Regions from separate parts of the Homo sapiens genome. Here regions 2 and 3 are each reported to be linked to region 1. Evidence: microRNA targets listed by miRTarBase, many of them from high-throughput screens and not tested one by one. Region 1 holds a microRNA gene; each other region holds the end of a gene's coding sequence.
The links. The annotated mature microRNA hsa-miR-6793-5p reads UGUGGGUUCUGGGUUGGGGUGA and lies in region 1 at 2,172-2,193, opposite strand. An mRNA with a match to its seed (bases 2 to 7 or 8) in the 3' UTR can be bound and repressed. Matches are read on the target gene's strand: a 7mer-m8 pairs with bases 2 to 8, a 7mer-A1 pairs with bases 2 to 7 and ends in A, and an 8mer does both.

Region 2: the mRNA of RAB7A is a reported target of hsa-miR-6793-5p. Seed matches in the 3' UTR shown: 7mer-A1 at 2,289-2,295.
Region 3: the mRNA of RDH10 is a reported target of hsa-miR-6793-5p. Seed matches in the 3' UTR shown: 7mer-m8 at 3,823-3,829.

Annotation. Positions count from the first base shown.
Region 1 is chr19:10,828,171-10,831,170 of GRCh38, reverse strand. MIR6793 (microRNA 6793) reads right to left here and starts at 2,198; the gene lies at 2,136-2,198. It overlaps DNM2 (dynamin 2), which reads right to left. Exons shown (of 21, transcript NM_001005361.3): 19 at 1,903-2,135; 20 at 793-1,044; 21 at 1-193. The coding sequence ends at 124.
Region 2 is chr3:128,811,552-128,815,974 of GRCh38, reverse strand. RAB7A (RAB7A, member RAS oncogene family) reads right to left here. Exons shown (of 6, transcript NM_004637.6): 6 at 1,177-2,648. The coding sequence ends at 2,553. Among named protein-coding and RNA genes, the nearest start is that of MIR12124, 33 kb to the left of the region's middle. RefSeq lists an enhancer at 2,535-2,829.
Region 3 is chr8:73,321,311-73,325,733 of GRCh38, forward strand. It overlaps RDH10 (retinol dehydrogenase 10), which reads left to right. Exons shown (of 6, transcript NM_172037.5): 5 at 1,369-1,500; 6 at 1,603-3,971. The coding sequence ends at 1,726. It overlaps RDH10-AS1 (RDH10 antisense RNA 1), which reads right to left. Exons shown (of 6, transcript NR_125388.1): 4 at 430-777. Among named protein-coding and RNA genes, the nearest start is that of RDH10, 29 kb to the left of the region's middle.

The sequences.
Region 1 (3,000 bases):
AGAGGCCAGGGCTGCCCACTGGGAGCCTGGTCCCAGCATAGGGGCGGCGGAGGGCCCCAGACCACTGAAGCTCCTGCGCCGCGGGTGCGTGAGGCCCCCCCGAGAGCACGCCCCCCTCGAGGCCTAGTCGAGCAGGGATGGCTCGGCTGGGCGGATAATGGTGGGCCGGCTGGGCGCAGCAGGGGGTCTTCTGCTGCAAAGAGAATAAAGACAGGTGGGGAGGGGGAGACGGCAGTGAGGCCGGGAGCAAGAGGCAGGCCTGGGTTGAGGACCCAGCCCCCACCCACACACCACCCCAGGGTGTTCCCAGGCTGACCTCCGCAAGCCACCAGGGTGTCGGGCAGGAGTGCCAAACCTAGGCATCAACTCGCCTGCTGTTTGACCCTCAGTGAGCCCCCTGCCCTCCCTGGGCCTCAGCTTCCCCACCGGAGAAGTGGGGAGAATAAAGCCTGGCCCACGGTAGGTTGAGGCAGGCAGGAGCAGGAAGGAGAAGAAGGTAAACAGTGGGAGGAGGTGCCCAGTGTGAGGGTTCCCCAGCTGCCTGGTGGCACACCCCAGTAGGCAGAGGGCAAGCTGGGAGCCCCGGAGTCACCAGGGCTCCGCTACTCTGTGACACTGAACAAGCCTCTTGGCCTCTCTGGGCCTGTTTCCTCGCAAGCCAAATAGGGATGAGGACGATTCCTCCACTCCAGCAGCTGGGCACGTAGTGAGAGCTCACTGGGAGGAAGTGAGACAGGAGGAGAGACCCCAGGGTGCAGGCAGTTGGGGTGGAGGGCAGGGGGTTGGCCTTACCTGGGCACTCCTGGGGGAATCCCTGGGGGGATCCGAACTGGCCGAGATGGGATCTGAGGCGGGGCTGGGAAGAGGTCACTGTTGGCAAACACGCTCTGGGGTCCAGGCCGGGATGGGATTGGGGGCGCCGAGAAGGAGGCTGCTGCCCCCACGGGAACAGGAATCAGGGGGGGCCCTGGAGTGGGGCCCCTCACTGCTGGGGGCCGGCCAGGGGGGTGTATGCTGGACACCGGTCGGCGCTGTGGAGTGGGGCTGTGAGGAAGGAGAGGGTGTGAGCTACAGATACAGATGGAGTAGGAGCCCCCGCCATGCCACTGTGGCTGCCAGAACCTGAGGTGGGGGCTGGCTATGGGGACAGCGCAGGCGCAGTGGGATCCTCCCACCCCAACCTGAGCGCCAGTCCCACCTTCCCTTGCCCTCGGCCCCCTCAGGCACTTCCCACTCACAGGGCCCCCTCAGGCCTTGGGCCTGGGATCCACCCTCACAGCCAAAGACACTTCCAGAGTCCTCCAGATCAAGCCCTAATATCTCTAGGGGCCGTGGAACCTGCAAGCCCTGTCCAGACATCCAGATTCCCTCCTGGGCCTCAGTCCCTGCCACCTGCAGGCCTGGGTGCGATATCCTCCCCTTAAGGAACTCCATGGCTCCCCCAGGGCTCTGCAAGGCAGCCCCCTCTGAGGTTCCCTGCCCGACGGCCTCAATGGACAACTCAGGGGCGGCAGCAGCTCTGGCCACGCCTTGCGTTTGCCCCTCCAGAGCCTCCCATCTGCCCTTCTCTGTGCTCCAGGAGGCTCATCTCTCTCCTGTGGCTGCTGCCCCTCCAGCCTCTTACCCCAGCTTCCATTTGGGCTGTGCCAATGGAAGGCACCAGCAGAGGGCAGGCGGGGTATTTATTCACAGGGTCCTGCCCTAGAGCTGTAGGGCTGGCTCGCCCCCATACCCCTTCTCTCCCTCCTCCGGCCTCAGCAGGGCAGCAGCTCCCACAGTGCCCAGCCCTGGGTGCCACCCTTGGGCTGTGTCCTGTTTCCTGCCAGGACCCTGCAGGACACACAGGGAGGGCAGGAACCTGCAGGCCGAATGCTTGAGGGTAGGGGAACCAGGCTTCCGGACCTGTGGCTGCTGGCGCTCTGGAGCCAGGTGTCATCGACAGGCGGGGGTACAGGCGTGGACACAGTGCTGGTGCTGATGTCACCGATGATGTTGAGCGCCTCCTTGAGGGCATGGTACATGCGCAGCATGTCGTCCCGCCGCTGTGCCTGGTCAGCCGACTCCTCCATGAGGCTGCTCTGGTCTGCCGAGGAGTATAGGTAGGCCAGCAGCTCGTGGTGGATGAAGGCCTTCGTCTGCGGGCAGGGGTTGGGGAGGGTCAGGCTTGTGTATCACCCCAACCCAGAACCCACAGTGACTGCTGGAAAAACATCTCTCACAGGGCGGGGCCACCCCCAGACTTTTTTGAAAAAGAGTCTTGCTCTGTCACCCAGGCTGGAGTACAGTGGCTCAATTTCAGCTCACTGCAACCTCCGCCTCCCGGGTTCAAGTAATTATCCTGCCTCAGCCTCCCAAGTAGCTAGGACGACAGGCACGTTGACACCATGCTTGGCTAAGTTTTGTAATTTTTTTAGAGATAGGGTTCCACCATGTGGCCCAGGCTGGTTATGAGATTCTTATTCAACTTATTTCTAGTATCTTGCCTCTTCCATTGATGTCTTTTCTCCTGTTTTAGCTTATTTATTTATTTCCTTAACCTTGGCAGAATAATCCTGTTATATCTTTTTTGTTTTTGCTTTTTTTTTTTTGAGACAGTCTCACTGTCGCCCAGGTTGGAGTGCAGTGGTGCAATCTCAGCTCACTGCAACCTCCGCCTCCCGGGTTTATGCCATTCTCCTGCCTCAGTCTCCCAAGTAGCTGGGACTACAGGCGCCTGCCACCACGCCCAGCTTATTTTTTGTATTTTTAGTAGAGACAGGGTTTCACCCTGTTAGCCAGGATGGTCTCGATCTCCTGACCTTATGATCCGCCTGCCTCAGCCTCCCAAAGTGCTGGGATTACAGGCGTGAGCCACCGCGCCCAGCCAATCCTGTTATATCTTTATTTTTTTGTGACAGAGTCTCACTCTGTCACCCAGGCTGCAGTGCAATCTTGGCTCACTGCAACCTGCGTCTCCTGGGTCCAAGCAATTCTTGTGCCTCAACCTCCCAAGTAGCTGGG
Region 2 (4,423 bases), not on the chromosome of region 1:
AGGAGGTGGGTCAGAGTCAAGGTCATTCAGCAGTGAACGTGTTTAGGGTAAAGTCAAAGCCAGTTCAAAGCCAAAGCCATTAAAATTAGGGTAAGTTATGATAAGGACAATGGTTGAAATCAGTCAATTAAAGATTACATTCATCTCAAGCTAAAGCAGGTTAATATCAGGATGATCATCAGTTTTAGGATGAAGGTCAAGCAGGTCAGAAGTCAAGGTCCATTTTAATGTCACATACAAGGTCAAGACCAGTGGAACACAATCAGAGGAATAGATGCCTGATTTGCAGAGGTGAGCATCACACAAGGGTCCACACCCTGTGGCCCAGTCACTGGGCCCCAAGCTGGAGAGAACTCTGCTCCTCTAGAGGACAAACACCTGATGAGGCCCAAGCAAAATATAGGACCAGAGAAGATTTAAGCCACCCAGCCAGGGTGGAATTGCACTGTGGATAATCTCACATTGTGCAGCATCTGAACTTCTAAACTATGCTATTTTTAACACATAAAGTACATGCCAAGAGGAGCCACGAGGAAAGAAACCAGCTGAGGAGCCTGAGAAGTGGAAATGTAGAAAAGTGTAGCAAAGTAGAATTCAAGATCTAACTCAATGAGGCACTTCTGCAAAACCTAAAGTGACTCACGACCTGAACTACTACTATTTTAATAAAATTGCTTCTAAGTGGCAACTATTCCATTCCAGGTGGGGGCTTACATATGTTGGAATACAGGGCCTCTGCTGCCAAATCTTCCTCTCCTGTGACAAATGCAGAATTACACATCTAAGTGTTAGCAACTAGGTCAACTAAAAATAAAACACATAACACATGACTAGGTTACAGTTACACCTACAGGATATGCATGGCTCAGAGTCCCCAGCAGTTTCTGGCTGCTCTCCTAAAGGGACAATGCGTTCTCCATCCATGGTCCTCAACCTCCAACAATGTGATTAAAATACACCCACCCCCGCCCCCGGAAAAAAAAACAAACAAAAAAAAACTAGGGACAGGCACTACAGGACCAGATATGAGAGGGCCTTTCTGCCTTGAAGCACCACACGTGCCCATTTATGGAGGGCTCTCTTGCTTGATAAGGCATTGACTATGATTAGCTCATGTGGTCTCTACTGAGCCAAGGCTCTTGAAGAAGGAAAAAAAGACTCTGGCAAAGGCAGATGATCATTGTTCTTGTTCAATTTTATTGGCATTGCGTTCATCTCTTTACAGAAGAACTCAGCCCACACCCTAGAATGTAGACCTTTGGAAAAAGGAGAAGTGCTCCGTTAAGCAAGCTACAATGCAGGGGCAGATCCTAGGAAGGGAGCAGAACTGCCAGGGTTCCAACCAAAGAAAGAGGTTAATTAATAATGGGCAATATTGGGGAGATGGGTGGGGAAAAGAGGAAAAAGCTCCGCTAACCTAAGAATACCACAACCCTGAAAGGAGCGCCTTCTAGAACAAAGGTAAAATCACTAGGACAGATCTGTTAGGGTTTTCCTTTCACTCTTGTAGTAGAATGCTGATCTAACGGGAGTTTTGAAGTGTGGAGCAGGGGGGAAAAAAAAGAAAGAAAATGAGAATTTTAATTTTTGAAATAACGGCAATTTATCCATTGCACATACCACTGTATTATGCAAATCAACGTTTTGGAAAATTTAGACACAGAAGGGAACTAGACAGTTTTCCCCCTGGAGAGATGAAAAGCTTTTTGGCTCTTAAGTCTTTGATAAAAGGCGTACATAATTCTTGTGTCTACTGTACAGAATACTGCCGCTAGCTGGATTTCCCAATTCTGAGTAACACTCTGCAATCCAAACAGGGTTCAACCCTCCACCTTACAGGCCTGCATTACAGGACTTAAACACATAATCCAAGAATTTCTTACACTAATTTATACATTTTAATTGGTTGCATATATTAACATGTACTATAAGATTCTTTTCTAAGAAGCATTACATAATAAATGGATACTGTAAAAAGATCTGATTAGTTAAAAGTAACAAGCATTAACAGATAGATACATACAAAACTCAGCCTGATCAGACTGGGTGTGAGCCTGTAATGGGGCATGGGGCACCAGCCTTCCCAAGGGGTAGCCTTCAAGGAGGGAGGGGAAAGGGGGGGTAAAAAGACCACAAGACCAATAAAAAAAATCAGATAATTAGACACAGATTAACTGTAAACAGTTCTCTCTCTCTCCAGTGAACAAAAAGAATAAGCTTCCAATGCCAACTCCATATCAGAATGACTTCCACCGCTGGCTTGTCCTGCTGCCATACTCGCGGGCTCATGTGGGTGGGCAGGCAGACCCCAAGGAGCCATCACGGGCAAGGGCTGGAGTTTGATTACGTCAGATCTGTGTGTGTGTGTGTGCGTGTGTGTGTGTGTGTGAGAGATATGTGGGGTGTAACTGTGTTTGATGGGGTTTTCTTTTGGCAGCTGGATGTGAGAGATCAATGTATGTTTTGTTTGGAAGAGGAGAGGGGAATTGTGTTGAAGGCCTACGTGTGTTCTTGGTTTGTGAAGGACTCTGTGCTCAACTCTCACTGCCCCCTCAGCAACTGCAGCTTTCTGCCGAGGCCTTGGCCCGGTCATTCTTGTCCAGTTTGATAGGTTCAGGAAATTCGTTGTACAGCTCCACCTCCGTTTCCTGGACAAGGAAACAGAGAAAGGTTGGTTACTCAGGGAATAGAAACATTTCAGCCCTCATTGCGGGCACTTTCTGCCCAGGAGGGGCTCACTTCTGCTTGGGCAGAGTGGGCGGGGAGCTGTGAAGCAGAGCCTGCCCACACAGTTAAGGGAGCGCTCTGGCAGAAGGTGCCATGCTCAGGGGAGTAGCAAGAGAAAAACAGATTTTGTGACAACTCCAGGTCAATGTGAAGAGAGGAGTCTTGCCAGAAGAAGCAGCAGTCTGCACTGAGCAATCAGGACAGAAGTTCATGGACATTCTCAATCAGATCATGATCTGGGAGCTCTACCACATCCAGTTCAGATGCTTTCTGTATGTTCCCTATAGTTGCCAATGGTTAACAATGGTCTGGATTTCTAGCTTTTCTCAAACATCTGGCAACCCTCAGCCAGTGTGTGCACGAGGTGAAGTGGCTGGAGCTGAGTGTGAGCTGCCCTCTCAGCCTGTAACATTCCTTCTACCTCCCTATCTTCCATCCACTTTTCGGGACCAATGGCCTCTGGTCTCTTTTTTCTTCCAAAGGTTTAGCAGAGTTTTGTCTCCCAAATGCTGCAGGCCTAGAAAGGAAGCTGTGAATGAATTTTATCACCATCTGTGACAAGTGATCAGAGCACATGGACTATGGTCATTTTAGTGGCACTTTGCTAAAGTAACATGCTTCCAATGAGGAGCAGCATTCTACTTTTGGGTGCAGGAAAACAATGTCACTTAAACACTGAGCACTTGTGTGCCAGTGACTGTTCTAGAATTTGGAGATAAAGCAGGAACTGTTTCTATTCATTAAAAGTTATCTAGGAAAAAAATCATTCCATTCACAATAACTATAAAAGTATAAAACATCTAGGAATACATACTTAAAAAAATAACAGCTTTGGCTGAGCATGGTGGCTCACGCCTGTAATCCCAGCACTTTGGGAGGCTGAAGCAGGTCGACCACCTGAAGTCAGGAGTTCAAGACCAGCCTGGCGAACATGGTGAAACCCCGTCTCTACTAAAAATACAGAAATTAGCCAGGCATGGTGACAAGCACCTATAATCCCAGCTACTCAGGAGGCTGAGGCAGGAGAATTGCTTGAACCCGGGAGGTCAAGGTTGCAGTGAGCCAAGATGGTGCCATTGCACTCCTAATAGCTTTGCTGGGTTTTAACTCACATGCCATGAAGTGTACAATTCAATGGTTTTTAGTATATTCAGAAAGTTGGGCAGCCATCAACATTAAGTTTAAAATACTCTCATCACCCCCCAAAAAACCCTATGCCCATTAGTAGTTCCTTCCCACCCCCATTCTATACCATCCTGGACCCAGCAACCACTCATCTACTTTCTGTCTCAATAGAGTTGCCTATTATTCTGGACACTTAATTTTTAAACATTATTTATTTATTTTAATTTTCCCCATTTCTTCTAGTGGACTGTGATTTCTTTCTTTTTTTTTTTTTGAGGCAGAGTCTTGCTCTGTCGCCCAGGCTGGAGTGCAATGGCATGATCACAGCTCACTGCAGCCTCTAACTCCTGGGCTCACACAATCCTCCAGTCTCAGCCTCCCAAGTAGCTGGAACTATAAGCTCATGCCACCACACCTAGCTAATTTTTAATTTTTAGTAGAGATGAGGCCTTGCTATGTTGCCCAAGATGGTCTCAAACTCCTGGTTTCAAGTGATCCTCCGGCCTCAGCCTCCCAAAGTGCTGTGATTTTAGGCATGAGCCACTGCATCCGGGCTGGACATTTCACTGAA
Region 3 (4,423 bases), not on the chromosome of region 1:
GCTTCTCTGTAAAGAGAAAACATAAGTATCCAGTCTTTTCCTTAGAAGCTCATCTTTTGGAGTTATTTTGTTTCTTTAAAATTGGTATTGGTAAATAAGGATTCTAGAAGAAAATTCCTTCATGTGACTTGGGTCTGGATATGAAGCAATGTTACTGTCACAGAGAGTAACGTGCCTTTCTTCTGAAAAGACCATTGAATATTACACTCCAGATTTGGAAACTTCCTTTTTGCAGCAAGCGTATGTAACTAGATTCACTCTGGCAGAATGAGAAGAACCATTTAGATATACTGAAAAATGAAATAAAATACCCACACACATAGAAAGGAGGTATATGGGAATATAAATGTCAAGTTACATCTGACTTGAGCTCAGCAGAATAAACAAAACTGTGAATCATTAAGAGGATGCTTGTGAAGACATGCTTACTTTTATCTTTGCTTGGGTGAGTTTGAAAGGCAAAGGAAGATAACCAAACCAGTTCCCTGTTGGTTGGGGGCCATTCTTAACGTGTACTGAACTGAACAAGCAGCAAAATAGGTGGAAGGTGATTTGAATCACTCCAAAGTCAGGCTTGGAGTCCCAAGTCTGACCTGGAAAATGGACTCTAGCTCTGCCTCTTATCCCACACATGTGTGTGTCTGTGTGAACATGTGTGTGTGTTGGTGGTTTGTTTTGTTTTGTTTTCCTCTTATGTACTTGGGAAGCAGTTGCTGAGGGTCTTGCGGAGCTCTGTTTCCTCCAGTGTAGCATAGCAGCAGGTGCAGGGGTCCAAAGCTATGGTGGCAAAATGAAGAATGAAAGGAATAAATTGCACACTATCATTTCAACATGTAACCCAGTGAATCAAACTGAAGGTAGGATGTCTATATACCCTTCATTTCAGGGGCCCCTAGAGAATATACCTTAGCTTTCCCTCTTCCGGCATCCTGGAAAGTGGATACCTGTGGCCTTCCTTTCACTTTGAAAGCTTACACCCTCATTTTGACTACAACTAATACTAAAAGCTTGGCATCTTGCTTGAGATTAGTGTTTGCTATGCCAAACACCTTCTCCTCTTTCTATTGAAAGCAAAACATAGGAAAATAATTTGAAATACTTTTAAGGCATCTTAAAAACATGACTTTTTCATCTTATGGAAAAGCAGACCAATTTTGCTTTTTTTTCCCAACTTGTTCTCCAGACTGTGCCAATAAAATGTGTTCATAGCAGGAAAATTTGGAAAATACAGAAAAGCACTATGAAGAAAACAAAATGTACCCAAAATCCCATCACTCAGATAACATCACTGTTAATGTTTTGATATGTATTTCCAGTCTTTTCTATTGTGTTAATTTTTCATTTTGTTTTTGAATAAATAACTTTCAGGAAAGAAATTGAGCCTTTTCTGCCACCTCTGAAGCCTGATTACTGTGTGAAGCAGGCCATGAAGGCCATCCTCACTGACCAGCCCATGATCTGCACTCCCCGCCTCATGTACATCGTGACCTTCATGAAGAGGTAACTGGGAGGGGTTCCCTCACTGACTGGGTCTCTCCATGCCTGCCCGATGTCTTAATTGAAACTTCAAGTTTGCTAACAGCTGTGACTTCCCTTTTTCAGCATCCTACCATTTGAAGCAGTTGTGTGCATGTATCGGTTCCTAGGAGCGGACAAGTGTATGTACCCCTTTATTGCTCAAAGAAAGCAAGCCACAAACAATAATGAAGCAAAAAATGGAATCTAAGAATCTTTTTGTATGGAATATTACTTCTATCAGAAGATGATCAAGATGTTTCAGTCCAGTGCACATCAGCATTGCTGACATTTTATGGATTCTAAACTTGTGTTGTTTCTTTTTTAAATCAACTTTTTAAAAAAATAAAGTGTAAATTAACCGACTAGAGTACTTGGAAAATGTGATCAGTACAAGTGAACTTAGGTTGTTGCCAACAGGGTCCTTTTAGGCAGAACCCAGAAACCAGTCAAATCTGTAGAGAAGCAGTGTGACATCTTCAGGTTACCATTATTTTTTAATGAGCAGGAAGTCTAGAAATGATAACTAGACTGTATGTTTCATGTGTGTGATTTTTCAGAATTCCCAGAGTTTACTCATTCTTGTTATTAAACTCTAGCCAGTTGACATCTTCGCAATTTCAAGGACTGATAGTGCTGTATTTTCTCACGTTTTCTAAGTTTCCGTTTTGCAAGGCCTAGGTGACTTTTTCATGGTGTTTGTATGTTTAGCTCTTTTGAAAAGGAATTTTGAAATCTCCATCAACTGAAGTAAATGATGTCTGAGTGTTACAGTAAAGGTGACCAAGTCTCTTTCTTAAAGTCACAATGACTAAAGTATTAGTTGAATTTTTTTTTTTTTTTTTTTGATGGAGTCTCGCTCTGTCACCAGGCTGGAGTGCAGTAGCACAATCACGGCTCACTGCAATCTCTGCCTCCCAGTTTCAAGTGATTCTGCTGTCTCAGCCTCCCAAGTAGCTGGGACTACAGGCATGCGCCACCACGCCCAGCTAATTTTTGTATTTTTAGTAGAGACGGGGTTTCACCATGTTGGTCAGGATGGTCTCCATCTCTTGACATTGTGATCCACCTGCCTCGGCCTCCCAAAGTGCTGGGATTACAGGCATGAGCCACTGCACCCAGCCTTGAATTTTTAATTTTATCTCTGATATACTTCATTAAGTGTCTGGAGACCTAATTATCCTAAAAGATCATACATTTTCTACCTATGAATTTTGCTGCATACAGAAAGTGCCCTTTCCTCAGGAAGTTGCTGTGTTTCATTTCTTTGGATGGACTCTTATCTAGAATACATAGCAGCTCTGCAAAGGAACAGTTTTTAAAAATGGGAACTTCTACATTGAAAAGTCCCCATTTTTGTGCCAACTATGATTAGTGAGAGGAAGAAATCTTATTCTATGGCATATGTATGGAAGGGTGTAAAGATTCTTTTGAAAGGTTTATTCACATTGTAGAACAGCAAATGACATTTTTACAGTATTTTTTTGTAAAGCAAACTATTTTGTGCCTTGAATTTGGTATATGTGTATTAGTGAAACATTGTAAAGGTGAACTTCTACCTCTGTATCTAAATGTATACCATCCACTTGTAAATGACTATAAACTATTATGTGATTGCTTTTTTTTTTAGAATGTCTTGTTTAAATAGTGGCCAATGTTTAAGGCTGTTAAAATAAGCCAACTTTTACTAATTGGGGAGTTTTATAAATGACTGATTAAATTTAAAGAATTAACTTACATGCAATTGTGTGATTATTAGTTATCAGCAGTGTTGTAAGGAAAATTATTGTGTTTTTTTTTATGATCATTATCCCACTTTAGGTAAAGAAAAATATTGGAATGGAATAGTGTTGGGAAACAGACATTAACAACCTAGGGTGCCTGCACTCAAATAGCCGATGTTACTGTCCCTAGATTAGAGACTTGATTAAGGGCTTGTTTGTACCAAAAGTGGGGAAACAATGCCATGACCTGTGTTTTAGTTTGGCTGCACCACAGATCAAATCTGCACTGTGTCTACATATAGGAAAGGTCCTGGTGTGTGCTAATGTTCCCAATGCAGGACTTGAGGAAGAGCTCTGTTATATGTTTCCATTTCTCTTTATCAAAGATAACCAAACCTTATGGCCCTTATAACAATGGAGGCACTGGCTGCCTCTTAATTTTCAATCATGGACCTAAAGAAGTACTCTGAAGGGTCTCAACAATGCCAGGTGGGGACAGATATACTCAGAGATTATCCAGGTCTGCCTCCCAGCGAGCCTGGAGTACACCAGACCCTCCTAGAGAAATCTGTTATAATTTAACAACCCACTTATCCACCTTAAAACTGAGGAAAGTCGTCTTTACATCTAATTTTATTCTTGTGTGTTATAACTTAAACCTATTTCTATTTTTGTTTGTTATTGCCCTTATAAGGGTGTCCATCTCCAAGTTCAATAAACTAATTCATTTAACTTTTTTGTAGAAGTCTTTCATTCCCATGTCCCAGCCCAGTTCAATCACTTCTGTGGCTCTTCCTTGAATGTTGTCCATATTCTCCCTCCCATCTTTAGCTGTGGAGTTTGGAAAGGGATACAGTTAATGCAGGTTTAGAACTATGGAATTCCTACAAGTTGCATTTCTTCATCCCAATGTCACGTTCTTATTAATGCTACATTGCTGATTGTGTGCATTATTGTTTCTAAACATGAAATCTCTTCTAGACAAGTCTGCCTGTTTGTGTTGATCACTTATGTAATTGCCAAGGTTGCTTTTCTGGCTGGTTATTTATCTACACCTGCCCCCACCCCTTAACATGAATGCTGACTTTGAATATGTTCTCTTTTTTGTCATCTGGCCCATTCATGTGAATGTTCAGGGCCACTGCACTCAAGGCTGATCCCCTAAGGAGCACCACCTCTGTCTG